4 linked regions of the Homo sapiens genome follow. Each later gene encodes a partner of the first gene's protein in a complex. Each region holds a gene or a part of one and is shown on either strand. Other genes may lie near its edges. The genes, in order: USP39, SNRPD3, SNRPG and PRPF6.

What was found.
Region 2: USP39 (region 1) and SNRPD3 share a complex: the UniProt entries of both Homo sapiens proteins name them as parts of the U4/U6-U5 tri-snRNP complex.
Region 3: USP39 (region 1) and SNRPG share a complex: the UniProt entries of both Homo sapiens proteins name them as parts of the U4/U6-U5 tri-snRNP complex.
Region 4: USP39 (region 1) and PRPF6 share a complex: the UniProt entries of both Homo sapiens proteins name them as parts of the U4/U6-U5 tri-snRNP complex.

The regions. Positions count from the first base shown.
Region 1 is NC_000002.12:85,640,178-85,647,214, reverse strand, and holds part of USP39 (ubiquitin carboxyl-terminal hydrolase 39), read right to left. Parts: intron 6,240-7,037; coding exon 6,097-6,239; intron 2,268-6,096; coding exon 2,132-2,267; intron 1,402-2,131; coding exon of another isoform or gene 1,333-1,401; exon of another isoform or gene 1,316-1,332; intron 1-1,315.
Region 2 is NC_000022.11:24,565,966-24,573,002, forward strand, and holds part of SNRPD3 (small nuclear ribonucleoprotein Sm D3), read left to right. Parts: intron 1-2,018; coding exon 2,019-2,211; intron 2,212-5,950; coding exon 5,951-6,012; 3' UTR 6,013-7,037. UniProt on the Homo sapiens protein: Plays a role in pre-mRNA splicing as a core component of the spliceosomal U1, U2, U4 and U5 small nuclear ribonucleoproteins (snRNPs), the building blocks of the spliceosome.
Region 3 is NC_000002.12:70,280,846-70,283,761, forward strand, and holds the end of SNRPG (small nuclear ribonucleoprotein G), read right to left. Parts: intron 840-2,916; coding exon 789-839; 3' UTR 517-788; downstream 1-516. UniProt on the Homo sapiens protein: Plays a role in pre-mRNA splicing as a core component of the spliceosomal U1, U2, U4 and U5 small nuclear ribonucleoproteins (snRNPs), the building blocks of the spliceosome.
Region 4 is NC_000020.11:64,026,126-64,033,162, forward strand, and holds the end of PRPF6 (pre-mRNA-processing factor 6), read left to right. Parts: intron 1-856; coding exon 857-1,033; intron 1,034-1,477; coding exon 1,478-1,611; intron 1,612-2,352; coding exon 2,353-2,444; intron 2,445-3,251; coding exon 3,252-3,366; exon of another isoform or gene 3,367-3,560; intron 3,561-3,666; exon of another isoform or gene 3,667-4,683; intron 4,684-5,792; coding exon 5,793-5,919; intron 5,920-6,715; coding exon 6,716-6,868; 3' UTR 6,869-6,975; downstream 6,976-7,037. UniProt on the Homo sapiens protein: Involved in pre-mRNA splicing as component of the U4/U6-U5 tri-snRNP complex, one of the building blocks of the spliceosome.

The sequences.
Region 1 (7,037 bases):
GAGAGAACCTAAATATGGACATTCCTGGCTGGGCACAGGGGCTTACGCCTGTAATCCCAGCATTTTGGGAGGCCGAGGTGGGCAGATCACTTGAGGTAAGGAGTTTGAGACCAGCCTGGCCAACACAGTAAAACCCCGTCTCTACCAAAAATACAAAAATTAGCCAGGCCTGGTGGCAGGTGCCTGTAGGTCCCAGCTACTTGGGAGGCTGAGGCAGGAGAATCACTTGAACCCAGGAGGTGGAGGTTGCAGTGAGCCAAGATCATGCCACTGCATTCCATCCTGGGTGATAGGGTGAGACTCTGTCTTAAAAAAAAAAAAAAAAAAAAAAGCAACAGGTCATCAAGAAAAGGTGTCCTTGGTGGACACTGTCTATCACACTAACCTGATTCCTTTGGCCTAAGAAACCAGTGCTACAAATACAGCAAAACGTATCTCACTTCATGCTTCCATGAACAAGGAAAAAATGTTTCTAGATTAAGGCAGAGGCACCTCTGGCCGCCCACCTGTCTTATCCAACCAAAGTTCTAAGAAATACCAAAGACCATTATTGTAGAATATAAATATTCCAGATCCTCTGGATATTACAATAGTTGAGAATATAGGAAACATAAGGAAAGCTCAGGATCACATAAGTAAGTTCCCATTCCTGCTTCAAGGACGAGTTAAGAACATGGGCTTTGAAGCAGAGTACCTGGGTCAAATCCTAATTCTACTGACTTGAGGTCAATTACTGAAACTCTGAGCCTAGGTCTCCTCCTCTGTAAAAAAGATGATACTGACATCTGTCTTGGAGGTGTGTTTTAATGAAAGAAATGAGATTAATGTACATTAAGTAACTGGCGTACTGCCTAACCACAATAAAGCACTTGATAAACAGAAGCTAGTTAAGATTAAACCCACAGTTCCAGAAGAGGCTAATCAAATGAGAACAATTTATGCTAATAATCTATGTGATATCAAATATATCTCAAGTACATGTTTTATCTGTTTTCAACTTGAGACAAATCCACAACATTTTTAAGATGAAAGGGAGCCTCTAAACCAGTGCTTCGCAAACTTTAATTTCTTACAAATCAGAGGGTCACGTTAAAATCCAGGTTCTGATGTGGTAGGTTTGAGGGGACTGAGAGTCTGCATTTCTAACAAGCTGATTTCTAACAAGACTGATGCTGATGTTATTGGTCCAAGGATGCATCCCACTTTGGATGGTAAGGCTCTAGTCTAGGGCAGAGGTTCTCAACCTTGGCTGCATATCAGGGTCTCTCAGGGAACTTCAAAACATCAAATGCCAGCCAGGCATGGTGGCTCATACCTGTAATCCCAGCAGTTTCAGAAGCTGAGGCGGGAGGATTGCTTGAGACCAGCATGAGCATCATAGCACAACCCCATCTCAATTAACTTGAAAAATAGAAAAGACATCAAACAGAAAAGACATCCACCTCCAGACAATCTAACAGAGAGCCTTTAACCTTAATGCTGACTGATGTTTAGGGTCAGATAATTCTTTGTAACACGGGCTGTCCTTCGTGTTGTAAAATATATACCAACATCCCTGGCCTCTGCCCCAGCTGAAAACTACTATTATAACCGGCCTGGTGTGGTGCCAGGCATTGGGATTTTAAAAAGCTCCCGGTTGGCGCGGTGGCTCACGCCTGTAATCCCAACACTTTGGGAGGCCGAGGTGGGTGGATCACAAGGTCAGGAGTTCAAGACTGGCCTGGCCAAGATCGTAAAACCCCGTCTCTACTAAAAATACAAAAATTAGCCGGGCGTGGTGATGGGCGCCTGTAATCCCATAATCCCAGCTATTCGGGAGGCTGAGGCAGAGAACTGCTTGAACCCAGGAGGCGGAGGTTGCAGTGAGCCAAGATCACGCCACTGCACTCCAGCCTGGGCTACAGAGCGAGACCCTGTCTCAAAAAAAAAAAAAAAAAGCTCCCAAGGTGAGTCCAATGTGTAGCCAAAATTGAGAACCACTGCCTTAAACTAACTACTGACAGCACTATTACTTGCAGAGTCCCAAAGCCAAGGCCAAGCAAGGACACACTGAAGGGAGCTGCCCTCTGAGATGCCAAAGAAACACCTGTTTTTGCCACTCTGTGCCATGAGACGGTCAGCAGCCACTCACATGATGAAGCACGTGGATCCGGTAGGAGCCCTCGGAGGGCTTGCCGTCATGCACGATGTTGGCAATGAGGTCATAGGTGGTATTCTTGTGTACTGCTTGTACTTCTTCAGACAAGTATTCTCTCAGATCCACATTTCTGTTAATGGTTAAAATAAAGCCGGAATAATCAGACAAAGGCTGTGAGGTTAAGGAAACTGTCCTACACAAACGGACCACAAAATTGTTCAGCCCTATTTTAGGACCCTTTCTCTGGGTAGGCTTGCAGAGTCAAGAAGGTCCAGGTGCGTTGGAATTCACAAAATATGCCAAAATGAATGACAGGGTTACACAGCTTCCCATATGATTTAAAAAAAAAAAAAAGAATGACAGGCAGTGGCTCATACCTATAATCCCAACACTTTGAGAGGTCAAGGTAGGAGGACTGCTTGAGCCCAGGAGTTCAAGGCCAGCCTGGGCAATGTAGTGAGACCCCTACAAAAAAAAAATTAGCCAGGCATGGTGGTACATGCATGTGGTCCTAGCTACTCAGGAGGCTGAGGTGAGAGGATCACTTGAGCCCAGGAGATTACGGCTAAAGTGAGCCAGGACCACACTATTGCACTCCAGCCTGGGCGACAGTGAGACCCTGTCTCAAAAAACCCCCAAAAGGAAGAAGAACTTTCAAATAGTTAAAAAGGAAAATATATAGACAGTTAACAAGAATATTAAGATTAAATACATAATTTTAGGAAAAATATATCATTTTGGAGTCTACAAATATTTATAAAAACTTACACAATACAAGGTAAAATAAAAAAAAAGACATTGCATCATAAAAGTTGTCTGATGTGCTACCACTCATTACATGAAACAAAACCATGTTATCACTGGAAGAGTTCACAAGAAACAGCTAATGGTGGTCACGTCCAGTTATATATCTCCCTTTGAAGTTAGACTGTGAACATATTAACTGTTCAAAATTACAGAGTTTAAAATGTAAACCATGTGGTAATAAACAAACATACAACTTTGTTGTAATTATTATATGTAGCTTTCTATGTATTGGTGACAGCTATTTGTTTCTACAGACTGACAGTGTCCCATATATGATGCAGTCAGACTGCAATAAATATTCACTGTTAAGAAAATGGAAGCCAGGTGCGGTGGCTCATGCCTGTAATCCCAACACTTTGGGAGGCCGAGGCGGGCAGACTGCCTGAGCTCAGGAGTTCGAAACCAGCCTGGGTAACATCGTGAAACCCTGCCTTTACTAAAGTACAAAAAAAAAAATTAGCTGGGCGTGGCGGCGTGCACCTGTAGTCCCACCTATTCCGGAGGCTGAGGCAGGAGAATTGCTTGAACCCAGGAGGCGAAGGTTGCAGTGAGCCGAGATAACGCCACCGCACTCCAGCCTGGGCAACAGAGCGAGACTCCATCTCCAAAAAAAAAAAAAAAAGGAGATATGAGTCCTGAGTCCATGTGAGCTCTAGTCAGCCAACCTGCCTTCCTGCTACTAAAGGCTGACTTCTCATTTTATTTTCTCTTCAGCCTGAACAAAAGCTGACTAGACTTGTCTGAATGAGTATCAGTGAAGAAGTCTTTTTTTTTTTTGAGACAGAGTCTCGCTCTGTCGCCCAGACTGGAGTGCAATGGCGCTAGCTATCTCAATTCACTGCAAGCTCTGCTTCCTGGGTTCACGCCATTCTCCTGTCTCAGCCTCCCGAGTAGCTGGGACTACAGGCGCCCACCACCATGCCTGGCTAATTTTTTGAATTTTTAGTAGAGACGGGGTTTCACCGTGTTAGCCAGGATGGTCTCGATCTCCTGACCTCGTGATCCGCCCGCCTTGGCCTCCCAAAGGGCTGGGATTACAGGTGTGAGCCACCGTGCCTGGTTTGGAGAAGTCTTTATACTCAAGATTTCATGACTGAACCAAAACTGTCCATGCGGCAAAAGAGAAATACTACGTTTAATCATTTTGTGTTAGTAAATAGGAAAAGGAGCAAACTATTCATTTTTTTTTTTTTTTTAGTAGAGACAAGGTCTTGCTATGTTGTCCAGGCAGGTCTCAAACTCCTGAGCTCAAGCAATTCTCCCACCTCGGCCTCCCAAAGTGATGACATTACAGATGTGAGCCACTGCGCCCAGCCTAAAAGAGCAAACTATACTCATCTCCCAACCACAGCAACAGACCAGTTAAGAGAATGGCTAATTACCTGAAAGTGAAACTTTAAACCTGCCCTCAAAAATCTCTATCTCCAAATAAGCAGAGGGTGCCTAATCACCATAAGTCTGATAACTCTCCGACAAAAACAGGATGTGTTATGAATAAAACATAGGAGAAGACAGGTATGAAAAAGATCCTTTTCAAGAAGTATGGACAATGAAATGATCCAGAATTGTATTACTCGAAGTAATTACAGCACATAAAATAATTAAAGTGCAAGTTTCCAGAATTAGTCACAATTTGATGTTCTCTAAAAGACTGCGTAGTTAAGAAACAATCTTTTTCTCAACTTCTCCGAAGTAAGCTTTCTGAAGGACAAACTTTTATATTGGGCCTACTCTAGGCCCATAAAAGAAACCAATGGGGCAAGGAAATTTCTGTGGCAACTGAGCAGGAAGTACCATTGATACACAATCTTCCTCCCTCTGGAGTTGCCCTTGGAATCCAGACTGCCCCTACCTACCAGGAACAGACAGGTGACTGGCAATTCACAAGAGGCTAGTGCTGAAATAAAACTTTGACACACAGACTTTCGAAGAAAGCACCTCTGTCATCCTACTCAAGGAGGCAGAGAACAAACCTCCATGTCCCCCCATTTAATTCTAGTCACAAACAAGATGCTAGTGGAGAAAAGTGTAGAAAAAGAGAAAAAGAAATTCCCCTGTAATTCTCAACTGCAAATGTTCTCTCTCCTCACCCTCCATGATTCTAAGAGTCCTGGCAATACTATAATAAGATGTTACACCTGGACAAACCCCTAGGGCTCAGGCCCATCTACTCCAAGCCTCTCATTTTATCTATGAGAGAACATATCCAGAAAACACGCAAACTATGGGTCTGAGGTCCCACCACTAAGACAGCCTAAAACTCAGGCCTCTTAATTTTAGATACTACTTTCTTAAACACTACATGGAATTTAAAACTGACACTATTTTCTTTCTTTCTTTCTTTTTTTTTTTTTTTTTTTTTTAGCACAGTCACACTCTGTCACCCAGACCCAGGCTGGAGGGCAGTGACACCATCTCAGCTCACTGCAGCCTCAATCTCCAAGGTTCTAGCCATCCTCCTGCCTCAGCCCCTCAAGTACCTAGGACTGCAGGTGTGCACCACCACATCTGGCTAATTTTTTGTATTTTTTTGTAGAGATGGGGTTTTGCCATGTTGCCTAGGCTGGTCTTGAACTCCTGAGCTCAAGCGATCCAGCTGCCTTGGCCTCCCAAAGTGCTGGGATTACAGGCGTGAGCCACCACGCCCAGCCAAACATCTTCTTAAGTATGAAAAACCTTGTCTCTTGAGAACTGAAAACCAACAGTCTACCCCCAAAAAGGATCTTGCAGAAGTTTTCTGAGTTGGAAGGAAGCAAACTAAAAGCATCTAGTACAACTCTAGTGTGCAAAAAGGTGTGATGGCCAGCAAATAGATGGGCAGACCCTCACTACTCAGGACATCTTCCAAACCAGGCAGAATCCTACCTGTCTTATCCTACTTGCATCATTTCTTCTTCTCTACGCAGGAAGACTATAATTTCCAGCTAGCAACAGGAGAGAAGATAAAATAGGGATTGCATCCCAATAAACATCAATCTTTTGTGGTCCCTGAAATAAGTGTATCCTTCCAATAAAAACTCTTATCTACTGTAGGTAGGCTCTGTTCCTTGTAATCCCCAACTAAGACAGTCCAAAATTAATACTGGTAAAAATACAAGAGAAGAAATCCAGGTTCACTCCCCGTGAGAGAAGTGAGGCAGGATGTTACTTACGTAATAGGGAAATTGACAATAGTTGGATTCTTCTCAACAAAGAAGTTGTTCTTAGTGAATCTCTTGATACAAAAGATTAGATATGGAGGCAACTTGGTAAGCTGGAAGCGCTTCAGAAAGTTCTCCTTGTAAGTCTTATATTCCTAGAGAAAGAAAAGAAAATTCTCAAATTAGTGCTGAAGTTCAGTAGTATTAGAGCAGGGGCATGAGTTTTTCATTTCGATTTTTTAAAATATAATTTTGCCTCACACTTAAGTTCACAAGACTCCTGGTCCGAGAAATTATGTATGAGGCTTAGGATGTGCAGTTTGGCTAAGGCTGATTTAAAAAAAAAAAAAAAAAAAAAGGCCGGGCCTGGTGGCTCACACCTATAATCCTATCACTGTAGGAGGCCGAGGCAGGGGGATCATTTCAGCACAGGAGTTCGAGACCAGCCTTGACAACATGGTGAAACCCCATCTCTACTAAAAAGGAAAAAGAAAAAAAAAGAAAAAAAAAATATATATATATATATGTAAAGAAAGAAAACTAACCAGGCACGGTGGCTCATGCCTGTAATCCCAACACTTTGAGAGGCTGAGGCAGGCAGATCACTTGAGGCCAGGAGATCGAGACCAGCCTGGCCAACAGGGTGAAACCGCATCTCTACTAAAAATACAAACATTAGCTGGGCATGGTGGCATGTACCTGTAGTCCCAGCTACTCGGGAGGCTGAGGCAGAAGAATCGCTTGAACCCGGGAGGTGGAGGTTGCAGTGAGCTGAGATCACACCACTGCACTCCAGCCTAGGCAACAGAGTGAGACTCCATCTCAAAAAAAAAAAAAAAGTATGTCTCCCCACTTTTTGGAGTTTCTCCTCTCCTAAATGACCTTCCTTTCTCTATACTACCCCAGAGGCAGGCAGAAAGCTGAAAACAGGATATATGAGAAGTACAAGAGGG
Region 2 (7,037 bases), on another chromosome or scaffold:
TCAGTCAGATTCAGGTGAGCCTGAGTTGTATCCAGTTTCTGTCTTGGGTAGTCTGACCATAAACCTGGCGTTCATTTGTGGCACTAGAGGTTATGGTATTCTTCAGGGGAAGAAAAGGATTGGTAAGGACTTGGGAACTGGATGAAAATTTAATAACAGGCTGGGAGTGAGGAGCCTGGAGCAGAAGGTTTATGAGAAACTGGAGCCCTGTTGCCCCTGAAGGTAGAACAGGGATAGTGGGTAGAAGCTCTAGAAACCATTCCTCTAGAAACTGCTCATATACAACAGGGGCGGCCCCAGAGCATAGTTTTGTTTGTTTTATTTTTGAGAGGATCTTGCTCTGTGGCCCAGGCTAGGGTGCAGTGGCTCCATCACAGCTCCCTGCAGCCTCGACCTCCCAGAACCAAGTGATCCTTTCACCTCAGCTTCCCGAGTAGCTGGACTACAGGCACATGCCACCACACCCAGCTAATTTTTGTAGAGATGAGGTCTCACTGTGTTGCCCAGGCTGGTCTCAAACTCCTGGGCTCAAGTGATCCTCCCACCTTGACCTCCCAAAGTGTTGATATTACAGACATGAGCCACCACACCTGGCCCATAGTTGTTCTTTTCTGAGTGTTCAAGCAGAGGCTGGGTGGCCAGTTAGCACTTGAGGAAAAGAATGAATGAGTATAAGATGGCAGCTAGCCAGACAGAAATCTGCAGAGACAGCACATCTTTCTACAATAAGGGCTGACCCATTCTAAATAAATTATAGTTCTCTCTCTTCAGAAGGTTCATACAATAAGCTGCTTTTTCTGTAAATGTGGTGCTTGTTGAGGTTGATGCTGGCAGATTGGTATCACCCTCCCATGCCAAGCTGGTCTCACCTTCAGGCTCCCCATTTGTCCATCCTGCAGTCTATCCTTGTTGCCACATTTATCTTTCCTGAGTGCTGCCTTAACCCTATTGATCTTTCCTCTATCGACAAACTTGACTGACTCCTTTATCTGAAGTAACGACCCCGTCCAGTGTCATTATTCGACTGCTCTGGTCCTCACATCCTGTAGGCTCCTGCCCAAGTGCCTGCTCTTTTCCTTGTGCAAGCTCTTGCCTCATAACCCTCCAGTAATTTCAGGCCCTTTTTACAGGCCTTGTGGTACCACCTCCATTTCTCAGTCCCTAGTCACTCAACCTAGAGGGTTCTGTCTCACCTTCTAGAGTATGCACTCTGGAGGGTCAGAACCACATCTGGTATATACTTGTGACCTTCATGGTGCCTTTGAAATCTGAGTGCCAGGCAGTGCAGGGGAAGACAGTTTGGACCAGCAGTTTGAAGCTGTTTTCGTTAGGGTTTAGCACCTTCAAGAGCTCTTCACATCTTTGCTCAGCAGGCAGTGCAGCACAGCCAGGGCTCTGAAGCTAGGCCAGCTGGTTCGAATCTGGAGTTCCCTGCATTCCAGCTGTTTGACCTGGGATAACTGCTTTGGTTTTTTTAACATGTAAAGATGGGAGCACTCGGCTGGGCGCAGTGGCTCACACCTGTAATCCCAACACTTTGGGAGGCTGAAGCGGGCAGATCACCTGAGGTCAGGAGTTCGAGACCAGCCTGTCCAACCTGGTGAAACCCCACCTCTACTAAAAATACAAAATTAGCCGGGCATGGTGGCGCATGCCTGTAATCCCAGCTACTCAGGAGGCTGAGGCAGGAGAATCGCTTGAACCCGGGAGGCAGAGGTCACGGTTAGCCGAGATTGCACCATTGCACTTCAGCCTGGGCAACAAGAGTGAAACTCCATCTCAAAAAAAAAAGGGGGGGAGCACTCATACCCACGCTGAAGGTGTTGTGAGGACTGTTTAGGTAAAGTGCTCAGTGCAGTCCCTGGTGTACACAGTTAGTACCGATGATTGCTGGGTAATTCACCAGCTTTGTCACAATGTCAGTCTGCTTTTCTGGACTTCCCCCTCCCACCAGTCAAGGCCCTCCCCACCGCTGGTGCTGTTGACCGTTAACTTATTAGCTGGTGATTTCCTTCCAGATGTCCAACATCACAGTCACATACAGAGATGGCCGAGTGGCACAGCTGGAGCAGGTATACATCCGTGGCAGCAAAATCCGCTTTCTGATTTTGCCTGACATGCTGAAGAACGCACCCATGTTAAAGAGCATGAAAAATAAAAACCAAGGCTCAGGGGCTGGCCGAGGAAAAGCTGCTATTCTCAAGGCCCAAGGTAGGTGCTTTTCATGCACAGGTTTTAAAATATAGGTTTGTCTTGTGTCTTGTAGAAAGGGGCCCTATTACTGCCTGGAGACAGAGAGGGTTTGACCTCTGCTCTCTCCACACCCACCACCCACTGCCACCCCTTCCCCTTGCAGCGTGGAGTGATCCTGTGAGGCCATTATTTTATTTTTTTGAGACAGAGTCTCGCTTTGTCACCCAGGCTGGAGTGCGATGGTGTGATCTCAGCTCACTGCAACCTCTGCCTCCCAGGTTCAAGCAATTCTCCTGCCTCAGCCTTTCAAGTAGCTGAGATTACAGTGCGCACTGCCCTGCCTAGCTAATTTTTTTATTTTTAATTTATTTTTATTTTTATTTTATTTTTAATTTTTTTTAATTTTTTTATTTTTTTGAGATGGAGTCTCGCTCTGTCGCCCAGGCTGGAGTGCAGTGGCGTGATCTCGGCTCACTGCAACCTCCGCCTCCCGGGTTCAAGCAGTTCTCTGCCTCAGACTCCTAAGTAGCTGGGATTACAGGCACCCGCCACTGCGCCGGGCTACTTTTTGTATTTTTAGTAGAAACGGGGTTTCACCACCTTGGCTAGGCTGGTCTTGAACTCATGACCTTGTGATCCACCTGCCTCAGCCTCCCAAAGTGCTGGGATTACAGGCGTGAGCCACTGCGCCCGGCTTATTTTTATTTTATTTATTTATTTTTGTATTTTTAGTAGAGATGGGATTTCACCATGTTGGTCAGGCTGGTCTTGAAGTCCTGACCTCACATGATCCACCTGCCTCGGCCCCCTGAAATGCTGGGATTACCAGTGTGAGCCACCGCACCTGGAGAGGCCCATCTTTTCTAGAAGTTCTGTGTGAGAGGTGTGGGATCGCTTGCCCTTGTCTAGTTTGCCGAGCAGACACAGCCCGGAGCAGATGAGCTGACTCGAGTGTGAGGGCAGCATTTCCTAGCGAGACTGGGTCTTATGGATGGACACCAGCATGTACTTAGGGAGGTCTGATAGTGGAGCTCCGTTTTCAGAAATAAAGCCACCTTTTAGTACATTCCAAAAGTGGGACTGTCCTTTTCGCAGTCCCCTAGTCTGGTCTTGCTTCTTGGTTAGCCTAATTTGGTTTTATATTTAGGTTCATGAAAGTTCTGTCATGTTGATTAGACAACAAAGTAATTGTGGCCCTTGGAAACTGTCTTAGTGTTGGTAAAAAAGGTTTGCAGCCAAGGAAGGCACTGGATTCTTCATTGGTATCTTTAGCTGCTGTACATGTTTTATATGTGTGTGAGGAAAAAAGTCAAACTGTGTTTTTCCTCTGCTCTCACAACACAACAATCAACAAAGACTTCTGTGACCAAGCAAGCAGTCAGTTCTGCAGTAGACACCAGCTGGGTGTCCTTCAGTTCTGACACTATCTACCTGGAGATAGCCTGAAAAACCACAGGTTGAGGGCTCGGTCCCACAAGACAGCCCCTGCACCCCCCACTATTATTCATAAGCACAGGCCTCCAGAACATCTGAATGGCTTCAAGCCAGGGTTCTCACGTCTCACTCCTTGGGTTCGATTAATTTGCTGGAGTAGCTCACACAACTCGGGAATCACATACTTAAATTTACTGGTTTATAACAGGATATTTTATAGGCTACAAATAAACAGCCACATGAAGAGATGCATAGGGTGAGATCTGGAAGGGTCGCAAGCACAAGAGCTTCTAGCCCCATGGAGTTTCCTCCCGGCACATGGATGAGTTCTTGTTCACCTTCCTGTCAGGCTGCGCATGATCAGCTGTCCCGAAGCTCCCCTAACCCTGCCCTCTTGGGCCTTTTATGGAGACTTTATTGGATAGTCATGATTAAAGGATGGACAACCATGTGGAAATGCCATTAGACAAAATGGGTGTGATCTAACACTAATAGACGGGGTTGGGAAACCCCGCGAGGCCTGTCCAGATTCTTTTTGGCCTCTCTCTGCAGCATTTGTTCCTCCAGGGTATAGGGCAGGACCTTTCTCTGGAGTGAGGTCTTATGACCCACAATCAGATTAGGGTCCTGCCTTGGGCAGGTGAAAGGAGGGCAGGAGAAGTTTCAAGAGAGAGATTCTGTCTCCTGAGTCCTGCTTCTGAGGCCTAAAGTGCCCCAATGTTATAACAAAAGACTATAACAAGGACTATAGGAGTTACGAGCTGGGAACCATAGATGAAAGCTCAAGTTTAAAGATGTAATAGTGTGAGGGGCCGGGCGCAGTGGCCCATGCCTGTAATCCTAGCACTTTGGGAGGCCGAGGTGGGCAGATCACGAGGTCAGGAGTTCGAGACCAGCCTGGCCAACACAGTGAAACCCCGTCTCTACTAAAAATACAAAAATTAGCTGGGCATGGTGGCAGGTCCCTGTAGTCCCAGCTACTCGGGAGGCTGAGGCAGGAGAATCGCTTGAACCCAGGAGGTGGAGGTTGCAGTGAGCCGAAATCGTGCCACTGCACTCCAGCCTAGGTGACAGAGCTAGACTCCATCTCAAAAAAAAAGAATATTTTATTTGTTCTTCAAAGCCTGTCTTCTCCTAGAACCCCTGGGTTACAGAGGAGAACAGCAGTCTTATCATGCTATTTATATGGAGTGTGTTTTCTTTTTGCTACTATGAAATAATTCTTTTTTTTTTTTTTTTTTTTTGGAGACTGAGTCTCCATCACCCAGGCTGCAGTGCGGTGGCTTGATCTCAGCTCACTGCCACCTCCTCCAACTCCCAGGTTCAAGTGATTCTCTTGCCTCAGCCTCCCAAGTAACTGGGATTACAGGCGCATACCACCACGTGCAGCTAATTTTTGTGTGTTCAGTAGAGAAGGGGTTTTGCCATGTTGGCCAGTCTGGTCTCAAACTTATGACCTCAAGTGATCTGCCTGCCTTGGACTCGCAAAGCCCTGGGGTTACAGACATGAGCCACTGCACCCAGCCTGAAATAATTATTTTCTCAGAAAAAAATACAAAAGATAATATAACCCTTCTCCCAGATCTAACACATGTTAACACTTAACTATATTTGTTTCAGAATTGAAAAAATTAATTCAGTGCATCTATAATGTTTTTCAGCTCACCCAAGGCCAGCCCCAAGGATTTGTCTTTTCTGTAGCTCTCAGACCACCTTCTTTGCCCTCAGCATGCTGCCTCCCAGCCTCTTGTAGAGAGCAGTGTGGGACTGGAAGGCAAGAGTGTGCTGCTAGCTCCTGCTTTGATGCCAGTCCCCAGCCCCTGCCCCTCCGTCTCCATCCCCCCTGTTAAATGCAGTGGCTGTCAGCTGGACGTGTTGGCTTATGCTTGTAATCCTGACACTTTGGGAGGCCGAGGTGGGTGGATCACCTGAGGTCAGGAGTTTAAGACCAGCCTGGCCAACATGGTGAAACCCTGTCTCTACTAAAAATACAGGAAATTAGCCGGGCGTTGTGGTTCACGGCTGTAGTCCCAGCTACTCAAGTAGGAGGCTGAGACATGAGAATCGCCTAATCCCAGGAGGTGGAGATTGCAGTGAGCCGAGATCATGCCACTGCACTCCAGCCTGGGTGACAGAGTGGGACTCCGTCTCAAAAAATAAAAAAAAAAAAAGGCGGGAGGTGGAAATGCAATGGCCAGGGTGGTGTTGGACCAGGTAACCCTTCAGAACCCTTCTAACTGGTGTCCTAGGGCCCTGGCTACTCTGTGCTATGAGCATTCACCGACCACACTGACCTGGCCTCATATTTTCTCTTCCCTTTCAGTGGCCGCAAGAGGAAGAGGACGTGGAATGGGACGTGGAAACATCTTTCAAAAGCGAAGATAATTTTCTAAGTTGAACAGAACTTTGTCCTTTTTTCTTTCAGGTTATCTGAGTTCATTGGAGTGGGTGCTTGTGCATATATGCTAGGTATCTTTTGCCATCTTTCTCTTTAGATCAGGGGAAATGTTTAAGCTAAATAAATCTGGGGGGTTTTTTGTTCTGTTTTGTTTTGTTTTCTTTGAGAAAATAAGGACTTTGTGTTCATTTGAAGTTTGCTTTGGCTAAATTTTGACACCCTGGGGGATGTCCTGGGAGAATGCCAGTACTTTGAAATAGCACAGCTATTGATGAGATTTTAAGCTGCTGTTCCTGGCCAGTTGCAGGTTAAGCCCCAGAAAAGTTCACCTTGGAGAAGCTCCGAGAACACACAGATTGTGTCTCATTCATCTTCAGACACAGGCACATAGTGTGGCACTTTGTTCAGTTAACATTTGTGGAGCTGTCATCAGCTCAGCTTTAACAACACAGGTGACTCTTTCCCTTGATAAAGTCATAGGTAATTCAGGGGCTGGGTGCGGCGGCTCACGCATGTAATCCCAGCACTTTGGGAGGCCAAGGCGGGCGGATCACGAGGTCAGGAGTTCGAGACCAGCCTGGCCAATATGGTGAAACCTCGTGTGTACTAAAAATAAAAAAATTAGCCGGGTGCGGTGGCATGTACCTGTAGTCCCAGCTACTCGGGAGGCTGAGGCAGAAGATTCGCTTGAACCCAGGAGGTGGACATTGCAGTGAGCAGAGATCATGCCACTGTACTCCAGCTTGGGTGACAGAGCGAGACTGCACCTCAAAAAAAAAAAAGTAATTCAGGGGATCCTAGTGGCCAGCTTCCTTGGCTCGTATACTGGCTACAACAAGTAGTTTTGTGGTGATTTGTGGAAACAGATTCTTGGGAGCATATCAGAGCATCTCAGCATTGATTGGCACATCCATAGTTGTTAATGTAGGAAGGGTGACCAGCAGCTCAGCACAGTGGCTTGCTTCCAGCACTCTGGGAGGCTGAGGTAGAGGATTGTTTGAGAGGAGTTCAA
Region 3 (2,916 bases), about 15 Mb from region 1:
GTGTGTAGTCCATTCTGTACAGTTTAAAAGTGATTCACGATTTGCAGGCTTTTTATCAGATCACAAAAAAATCAGTCTTTAAGCATTTGCTTGGTAAGGTTTCTTAAGATTAGGTTTATAATACAACCATCTGTAATGTATCTCTCGTTTGAGCTTGTGGGCCATACAATTCATTAACTAGATGAATACATTGTGGACAGCATCCTCACTACCCCTCTCTACTCACTCACAAAGAACCATGATACACTGGAATGTTTTTCTCTGGAATCCTCTTTCTACTCTTGTATTAAAATTTTTCCCCACTTCATGATTATATTCAAAATAAACAACTACATCATTACTTCTTGTCTTTTGCTTCTGTTGTACTATATTTGGAATGTAGATGTACTTGGGAAAGTCAGGCTAGATCAAAGTTACTATTCTTACAAGTTTTGAAAATTAGTGTTTTAGAAGAAACTCACTCATGTTTGTAACTTCTTTATCTGTTCAGTGTTGAAAGATGATGGACAGAAGGAATCCTTGCCATGTTTCACATTTAATAAGATTCTTTCACTTTAATGCATAAAACCCTTTGAAATCAATGTCAACCAGGAAAATTCATGTTAGAAAAAACTGGAATGAGAGCTGATATTCTATATTCAGAACATCTGAGAAAGCATTTTTGACTATTACAAAAGTTTATTTAACAAAAAGTCTAATATGAAAATGTACATGACCTAATTTTTACATCATAGTAAAACAGGCCCTATGGAGAGAGGACATGGGTTTCTCTGCTGAACAGCCATTATTTATACTCGTTCCAAGGCTTCTAACATGATGATACTATTTCCTCGTATTACCTAAGAAAGAGAAAAATAAATTTGAAAAGAACAACTCAGGTAACAGACATAACTATGATGATTTAAGAATTTTCACCAAATCATTAATGGTTTTTTAATATTACATGTCGGTTTGCAAAGCTTTGTTCAAGCCACAGGGACACCAAACAACTCTAAGCCCTTTATACGACAGACATCTTTTGGATTTAAGGCTAACAATTTGCTTTATGAGATTCTAATGCCAAGTCTCCAATGACTAATTTCACCTTTTTTTTTGAGACAGTCTCACTCTGTTGCCCAGGCTAGAGTGTAGTGGCGCAATCTCGGCTCACTGCAGCCTCTGCCACCCAGGTTCAAGCAATCCTGCTTCAGCCTCCCAAGTAGCTAGGATTACAGGAGCCCTGACCACGCCCAGCTAATTTTTATATTTTTGGTAGAGACGGGGTTTCACCATGTTGGCCAGGCTGGTGTCAAACTCCTGACCTCAAGTAATCTGCTTGCCTCAGCCTCACAAAGTGCTGGGATTACAGGCGTGAGCTACTACGCCTGGCCCTAATTTCACCTTCTAAAATGCAGGACTCAAATTTAAATGCCCATCCCTGACTCTATGGGATCCAAAAATTAATGAGTAAAATATGTACAGTAGAGTATGTTAGGTACAGTTTGGAGGTATGAGATCATTTAGGGAAGAAACCAGGATGGGAAATTGTGAAAGGCATGCTTTATGAAAATGACATTTTACCTGGGTCTTGGAAATTGGGCAGAATTTTGAAAAGGAGATTGTAGGAAATTCTAGACAGAACTAAGATGAAGACAAAGTATGAGAGGATAAGGAAGTAATCTAATTTGAATGCAGTAAAAAGTTCACGAAGAGAATCAGGAAACAAAGATAGTTGGCATTCAATCTTGGAAAGCTTCAAATGCCAATCTTAGTGTTTGGAGGACATCAGAAACTAACAATGAGCCAGTGAGAGTTTCACTTGGGGGAATGACAACCATAAGTGTCCCTGCAACAAGATATTATATAAATACGCCGAAGTTTGAATAGGACAGAACCTAGAGGCAGAAAGAGAAGTTATAAAAAAAAGGCCCTAGGAGAACAGTGCTTGACCTAGTAGATAAGCCATAAATGAAGATAAGAATATTTATCGGGGGTGTGGTGGCTCACGCCTATAATCCCAGCACTTTGGGAGGCCAAGGCGGGTGGATCACCTGAGGTTGGGAGTTCGAGACCATCCTGGCCAACATGGAGAAACCCCCATCTCTACTAAAAATAAAAAATTAGCCGGGTGTGGTGGCACATGCCTGTAATCCCAGCTACTCAGGAGGCTGAGGCAGGAGAAATCACTTGAACCCGGGAGGCGGAGGTTGCGGTAAGCCAAGATAGCGCCACTGCACTCCAGCCTGGGCAACGAGCGAAACTGTCTTTTGTCAAAAAAAAAAAAAAAAAAAAAAAAAAAACAACAAACCAAAACCAAAACAAACCAACAGACAAACTTATCAGAGTATAGATGAATCAGCTGGTAAATGAATTCAAGAGGGGTAGAAAAATAAGCGAAACTGGAAGGCTAGGGGACTAAAAACAGTAAGTCCCTAATAGACTGGAGATCATCATAATCGATAGATCACCCATCAGTCAAGTAGAATTGGATAGGTGAATGGAGGGGTACGGGAGGGAAAGAATAGGTAATGTAGGGGAGAGAAAGGTAATGTAATAATTTGAGGTGTTTATTAGAAATGGAGGCATTCCAAAAAGATTCAAAGTGGAGCTATGCTTATAGGCAGCTAGAGTAAAAGTAGTTGTAACTTATTCTTTTCTCACAGTATCATGCTTGTTTTATTTACACATACGCTATGATTTATTGTGTTCTCCATACAAATGTAAATTTTATGAGGGCAGGGACTTAGGTGCAAAACCCCAGTGCCTAAAATAGTAGCAGGCACACAGAGGGCTCAATAACCTGGTAAATATGAATAAAAGAACTCACATGTGATTACTGCAGCTGACAGAATAGAAGGGAACACAATTGGTAGGATAAGTGTCTTGGAACCTGGCAGCCAATTATCAGCAATGAGTATGATAAGGTAGTAAAGAGCA
Region 4 (7,037 bases), on another chromosome or scaffold:
GCTTGGGTGGTGATGGGAGTGAGATGACGGCAGGCAAACGAGACCACAGCACACTCATCTTTGTGATGTGACTAAAACATTCATGTGGCCGGGCGTGGTGGCCGGGCGCGGTGGCTCACGCCTGTAATCTCAGCACTTTGGGAGGCCAAGGCGGACAGATCACCTGAGGGTGGGAGTTTGAGACCAGCCTGACCAACATGGAGAAACCCCGTCTCTACTAAAAATACAAAATTAGCCGGGCGTGGTGGTGCGTGCCTGTAATCCCAGCTGCTCGGGAGGCTGAGGCAGGAGAATCGCTTGAACCCCGGGGGTGGAGGTTGCGGTGAGCTGAGATCGCGCCACTGCACTCCAGCCTGGGCAGCAAGAGGGAAACTGTCTCAGCAACAACAACAACAACAAACATGTTCATACGGCCGGGTGTGGTGGCTCACGCCTGTAATCCCAGCACTTTGGGAGGCCAAGGCAGGTAGATTGTGAGATCAGGAGTTCGACACCAGCCTGACCAACTCTGCTAAAAATACAAAATTAGCTGGGTGTGGTGGCTTGCACCTGTAGTTCCAGCTACTTGGGAGGCTGAGGCAGGAGAATGGTGTGAACCCAGCAGGTGGAGCTTGCAGTGAGCCGAGATCGTGCCACTGCACTCCAGCCTGGGTGACAGAGCGAGACTCTATCTCAAAAAAAAACAAAACAAAACAAAAACATATATTTATCCCCACCTTTTGTGTACACAAACAGGCTATGAAAAGCTTACAAAAGTACACACAGTACTGCAGGTAACAGTGTTGAGGATGAGTGTACCATGAAGCACGTACCCTGGAGCTGATGCCCTGCGTGACAGTGCATGTCTGCCCCACAGGTGTTCATGAAGTCTGTGAAGCTGGAGTGGGTGCAAGACAACATCAGGGCAGCCCAAGATCTGTGCGAGGAGGCCCTGCGGCACTATGAGGACTTCCCCAAGCTGTGGATGATGAAGGGGCAGATCGAGGAGCAGAAGGAGATGATGGAGAAGGCGCGGGAAGCCTATAACCAGGGGGTACGTCTCTGCCTGCACCCTGGGGCTGCAGCTGACCCGGCATTCACAAAACTGAGCCCCCTGGTGCAGGGTCATTGCCCTTCGCCTCTGAGGAGATGTGGAGGGCTGGGGGTTACAGCTGATGGAGCTGCAGACTCAGGACCCAAACCCTGGTCCCCTCGCTGAGTTCTGTGCTTTTCCTTATATGAAGCTGCACACACTGCTCAGAAGTGCAGAGTGTGGCACACCTGCAGTAAAGGCTGGTACGTACAGACCTGTGTGCACAGGTCCACAGCACCACCGCACACCTGTACACCCACAAATGCAGAGTGTGAGGGGTGTTTTTCCATGGACATGGCAGCCCTGAGGGACTCGGTCACCCACTGCAGATGAGAAGCTGGGCATGGCTGTGTCCCAGTTCTTCATAGACACCACCTGAGCTGCTCTCTTACTTGTTGGTTGCAGTTGAAGAAGTGTCCCCACTCCACACCCCTGTGGCTTTTGCTCTCTCGGCTGGAGGAGAAGATTGGGCAGCTTACTCGAGCACGGGCCATTTTGGAAAAGTCTCGTCTGAAGAACCCAAAGAACCCTGGGCTGTGGTGAGTCCTGGAGGGGGCAGCCTGGCCTCTGGGCACAGCTTCCCCATCAGGTGGGCCGCCGTCACCCAGCTGCTTGTGTGGAGTCACTCGTGCAGTGCTTCCAGGCTCAGGGGCTTGGGGGGCGGTAGGTGCTGGCCATGAAAAATCACGGTCCCTGCCTTAGGAGAGTTCGGCCTAGGTACTGTGACAGGCCTGTAGATGGTTTGATGCAGTTTAATTTGTGTTCTGATGGAGGGCGCCTGGGAGAGGGAGGGGTTAATGATGGCTGGGACGAGGGAAGGATGGACCCCGGAGAGCCAGCTCCACAGAGGAGGTGGCGTGGAGAGCCCTGGAGGTGGACAGGAGCCTGCTAGGTGCAGGCTCTGTTCATGGAGGTGCTGCGTCCAGCTCAGGGTGACGGGGCTGGAGCACTGTGCAGGCACTGCCGCAGACAGGCAGCTTCTGGGTGCCTTGTGCGGCCCTGGCTCTCCCAGTCTGGTCTTGTTTGTTCTGGATGCCTTCACCTGCATCTGGACAGCGTCAGGATCTGAGGTCTTGCCTTGGGGCGGTTGCCAGTGGGGCTGGCAGGGATGTGGGCCCCAGCGCCTTGTTTCTGTGGTGGATGAGCTCTGCTGTGGAGGGAATGGAGTTTTTGCTGCTGTGACTGGGTGGAGAGCCCTTTCAGACAAGGCTTCCCAGAAGCTACCAGAATATGTGCTGTTGGTAGACGGCTGTGGGACCTCCGGGGGCCTGTCTCCTCAGGTTGGAGTCCGTGCGGCTGGAGTACCGTGCGGGGCTGAAGAACATCGCAAATACACTCATGGCCAAGGCGCTGCAGGAGTGCCCCAACTCCGGTAAGGGGGTGCCCCGACTCCGGTAAGGGGGTGCCCTGACTCCGGTAAGGGGGTGCCTTGACTCCGGTAAGGGGGTGCTTCCTGGCTTCCCAGACTCCGCAGGGCTGGCACTTCCTGAGGGAGTGGGGGCTCAGGCTTCAGACGGACTTTATTAAAATGTGTAGTTTGTGTGAATCATTTCAGTCAAAAGTTTCAGCTATACTCGGCCGTTAAGACAACTTAATGAAATTCTTGGCCTCAAAATGGGAGAATTTGATTTCATTTCTGAAGTGTTATCATTTCTTTTTCTTTTAAAATTTAAAAGAAATTGGCCAGGTGTGGTGGCTCATGCCTGTAATCTCAGCACTTTGAGAGACTGAGGCGGGAGGATTGCTTGAGTCCAGGAGTCCATTGCTTGAGACCAGCCTGGCCAACATGGTGAAACCCCGTCTCTACTAAAATACAAAAATGAGCTGGGCATGGTGGCGGGCGCCTGTAATCCCAGCTACTCGGGAGGCTGAGGCAGGAGAATTGCTTGAGCCCGGGAGTGGGAGGTTGCAGTGAGCTGAGATTGCGCCATTGCACTCCACCCTGAATGACAGAGTGAGACTCTGCAGGGTGTCCAGTCTGTGCCCTCAGGGCTGCCATGGTTTTGGGTGGGCCAGAGTGCTCATCCTTTGTGGTTCTCCTTGCACAAGTTCTGCGAGCCGTGTGTGGGAGGCCCCTGTCGTGGTCTGAGGACGTCCCGGGTTAGAATCTGTAGGCTGGGCACCTTTCCGGAACCAGAGGCTGGAGTGCAAATCTTTGTTCTTTGTTTCTGAATTATAGGTATCCTGTGGTCTGAGGCCATCTTCCTCGAGGCAAGGCCCCAGAGGAGGACCAAGAGCGTGGATGCCCTGAAGAAGTGTGAGCATGACCCCCATGTGCTCCTGGCCGTGGCCAAGTGAGTGGGGCCCCCACAGGATTGCTGAACCTCGGGGTCCTAATGGGCTCTTTTTCCAGAGTCTGTCTGCCTCTTCCTGGTCATTGTAAAGATGCCCGGCAGCAGGGTGGGCTTCCCCGATCCTCGGCTGCCGTCGCTCCTGCTGTGGTCTGGGGCAGGCGCCTCTCCTGGCAGACACACCTGAGGGTGCCGTGGTCAGAGACTCACTGGGGACGCATGTGATTCACACTGGTGCGCTGGCCGCCGGGTCACAGACTCACTGGGGACGCGTGTGATTCACACTGGTGCGCTGGCCGCCAGGTCAGAGACTCACCGGGGACGCATGTGATTCACACTGGTGCTCTGGTCGCCGGGTCAGAGACTCACTGGGGACGCATGTGATTCACACTGGTGCGCTGGCCGCCGGGTCAGAGACTCACTGGGGACACATGTGATTCACACTGGTGTGCTGGCCGCCGGGTCAGAGACTCACTGGGGACGCGTGTGATTCACACTGGTGCGCTGGCCGCTGGGTCAGAGACTCACTGGGGACGTGACTCTGGAACCTTGCAGGCAGCAGCGGGTAGCCATGGGGCAGAGCATGCAGACTCTAGGCACATGTGGGCAAAGACCCGCCAGGTGTGGGGCACAGCAGGGAGCTCAGGGCCATCCCCGACCCCCAGGGTCCCTGTTTCCTTCTAGAAAGAGGATGACAGTCTGGGAAGGAGCTGGGCCTGAGTGTGGGTCAGGAGGCTGGGAAGTGACCATGTGGGGTGAAGGGAGTTCTTGGAAGAACCCTGGGTTCCTGAGGCTGCAGCTCAGGACGTGGGCTCACCTGGCAGAGGTGGCGTGTCTGGCCCCAGGAGCTCTCCTGTGTCCGGCTTCCCCTCCACCTGCCCCGCCATGGGTCATGCAGAGACAACAGCCTTCCTAGTGCTGGCTTTTGATTCTCTCCATCCCTTCTCCCCAGCACTGGGTGGCAGTGGTGCTTGGTCTCCAGAGGTCTGGGTGCCGCCCCCACAGGCTTGCCTGTAGGGGCACCTCCTCTCCCCTGCCCGCAGGCCCCCGACAGATGAGAGAGGCTCCCCACAGGGAGGCTTGTGTCTGCCTGGTGCTACCTTGGTCCTGCCCTGTGCGTTCACCTCCCAGAGTGACTTCTGGGTGACACTCTGATAGTGCAGCCATAAAACCTTATAAAAGGCTTTGCTAAAGTAAATAAGTCACTCCTTGCTATTCCCAAGCCAGTGTTTTGTGTGTCTGCTATCTGGGTTTGTGCTCTTTAAATCACAGTTTATCTAACACCGGGCAATTAAGAATACCACAAGGCTTAAAAAACAATCAGGTTATCAGAGTGTGAAATTATTCCGTTTGGCAACTGAGACGAACCCGAACAGCTGCCCGGAGTGGAGGCTCCTCGTGTTGTCTCTTGACTACGGTGCCTCTGGCTCCAGGGGGAGGTGACCCTGAGGAGAGGGTGGCAGCAACGCAGAGTCCCGGGCCTGCCAGCATGCTCAGCAGCCAGCGCCCGCCATCCCTTCTCCAGCAGCGGGTGGGGGTGCCATGCACACCCTTACCTGGCCTCTCATAGCATGGACCTCTTCGGGCCCGGTTTTTCAGGTGTGCATGTGTCTGGCAGGCACGGCGGTGTGAATCCAGTGGCCTGAGGGCTGTGGGCTGCAGGCCCAGGCCCTTGTGCTGCCTGGAGCCCATCTTCTCAGTGTTCACTGGGGTTGCTGCTGGAGGCCGGGTGGGGCAGGATGATCCAGCAGGTGTCTCAGTGAGGAGCTGAAACTGTATAACTTTCCCTCATCAAAGTTGCAGTTTAATTTTGTGTCAGGTTTAGTTTCATCTCCTTGTATCTGACCCTAATTTTACGGAGTTGGAAGATCTTTCCCTGCGTGTGAATTTTTTAAGAAACAGTTTGGGACAGGTGCGGTGGCTCATGCCTATAATCCCAGCACTGGGAGGCTGAGGCAGGTGGATCATGAGGTCAGGAGTTTGAGACCACCCTGACCAACACAGTGAAACCCCATCTCTACTAAAAATACAAAAATTAGCCGGGTGTGGTGGCGCATGCCTGTAATCCCAGCTACTCAGGAGGCTGAGGCAGGAGAATCGCTTGAACCTGGGAGGCAGAGCTTGCAGTGAGTCGAGATCGCGCCACTGCACTCCAGCCTGGGCGACAGAGCGAGACTCCTTCTCAAAAAAAAAAAAAAAAAAACAACAAAAAAAAACCAATTTGGTTAGACCCGTGAAGGGCAGCTTCAAGTTAATGATCTGGGGTAATTATTTCTGGATCAGCCGAGGCCCTGATCCTCAGGCCTTCTTGAGGGGAGCACCAGGGCTGCGGGTCAGGGATGAAGCTGATGGCCCTGAAGCCGTTCCCCTGCCCCAGAATACCGTCCTGCAGCCACTCACTCTGGGTTCACGTCCTTCTGCTGGAACAGGCTGTTTTGGAGTCAGCGGAAGATCACCAAGGCCAGGGAGTGGTTCCACCGCACTGTGAAGATTGACTCGGACCTGGGGGATGCCTGGGCCTTCTTCTACAAGTTTGAGCTGCAGCATGGCACTGAGGTGAGGCCCCTCGACAGACCGCCGCTCAGTGCCTTCTGGGACTGTGGCGGGGAGTTCCGCCAGCCCTGGGGGCTCTAGGAGGTGGCCACGGCCAGCGTGACTCTGCCCGGGGTCGGGAGGATGGACCGGGTGTGTGGGGCACAGAATCCTCGACACCTCCCCACAAGGCAGTCTCTGCCTCCACATCCGTTTTCTGGTTATAGCCTCACAGCTCCACACCCTGGAATTGAGGCACCCTGTCCGTTAGGGTGGCCTGTCTGCTGGAGTATTTTAACGAGTTATTTGCTGGCTGGAGCCTGGGCTCACTTTAGGAATGGGAATGGAGTTGGCCTTTTTCTTGGGCCTGAGCCTGAGTGTGGCTTTCTAGGACAGCCTGGGCAGCAGCCCCTCTGCTCCCACCCGCCCCGCTAGAGCCAAGCGTTGTCTGAGCTGTGCTGGAGGCAGTCAGGCTGTCCTGGTCCTCCCTGGAAAGTGTTGCCAGCCCACGTGAACCCTAACTCCTTGTTTGGAGAAGGCAGACGTGAGCACTTGTGTGAGGCACAGACATGGGGAGCCTGGCTCAGTTCCTCATCTGTGGGCTGAGGCTGGTGGGGTCCATGCTCCTCAGGAGGTGGGGCTCCTTTGAGGAACACACCTGAAAGAGCCTTGCCTTCCGGTGCAGGGCCTGTGCCCTCTGGCCCGCCAGTTGGGGTTGGTGCTGCCAGGGCCAGGTCTGCAGGGGCCAGGCGAGAAGCAGGCGAGGTCCGGGGAGTAGCGTGGGAGGACCCCTGCCTGACGTGCCCTGTGGTCCCCCCAGGAGCAGCAGGAGGAGGTGAGGAAGCGCTGTGAGAGTGCAGAGCCTCGGCATGGGGAGCTGTGGTGCGCCGTGTCCAAGGACATCGCCAACTGGCAGAAGAAGATCGGGGACATCCTTAGGCTGGTGGCCGGCCGCATCAAGAACACCTTCTGATTGAGCGGTTGCCATGGCCGGTCTCCGTGGGGCAGGGTTGGGCCGCATGTGGAAGGGCTCTGAGCTGTGTCCTCCTTCATTAAAAGTTTTTATGTCTCGTGTCAGAACAGGCAGCCTGCTGGTTTTCTCTGGGGCCCTTCTCTGGCTCCTGCTTCTGCTGCCCCAGTCT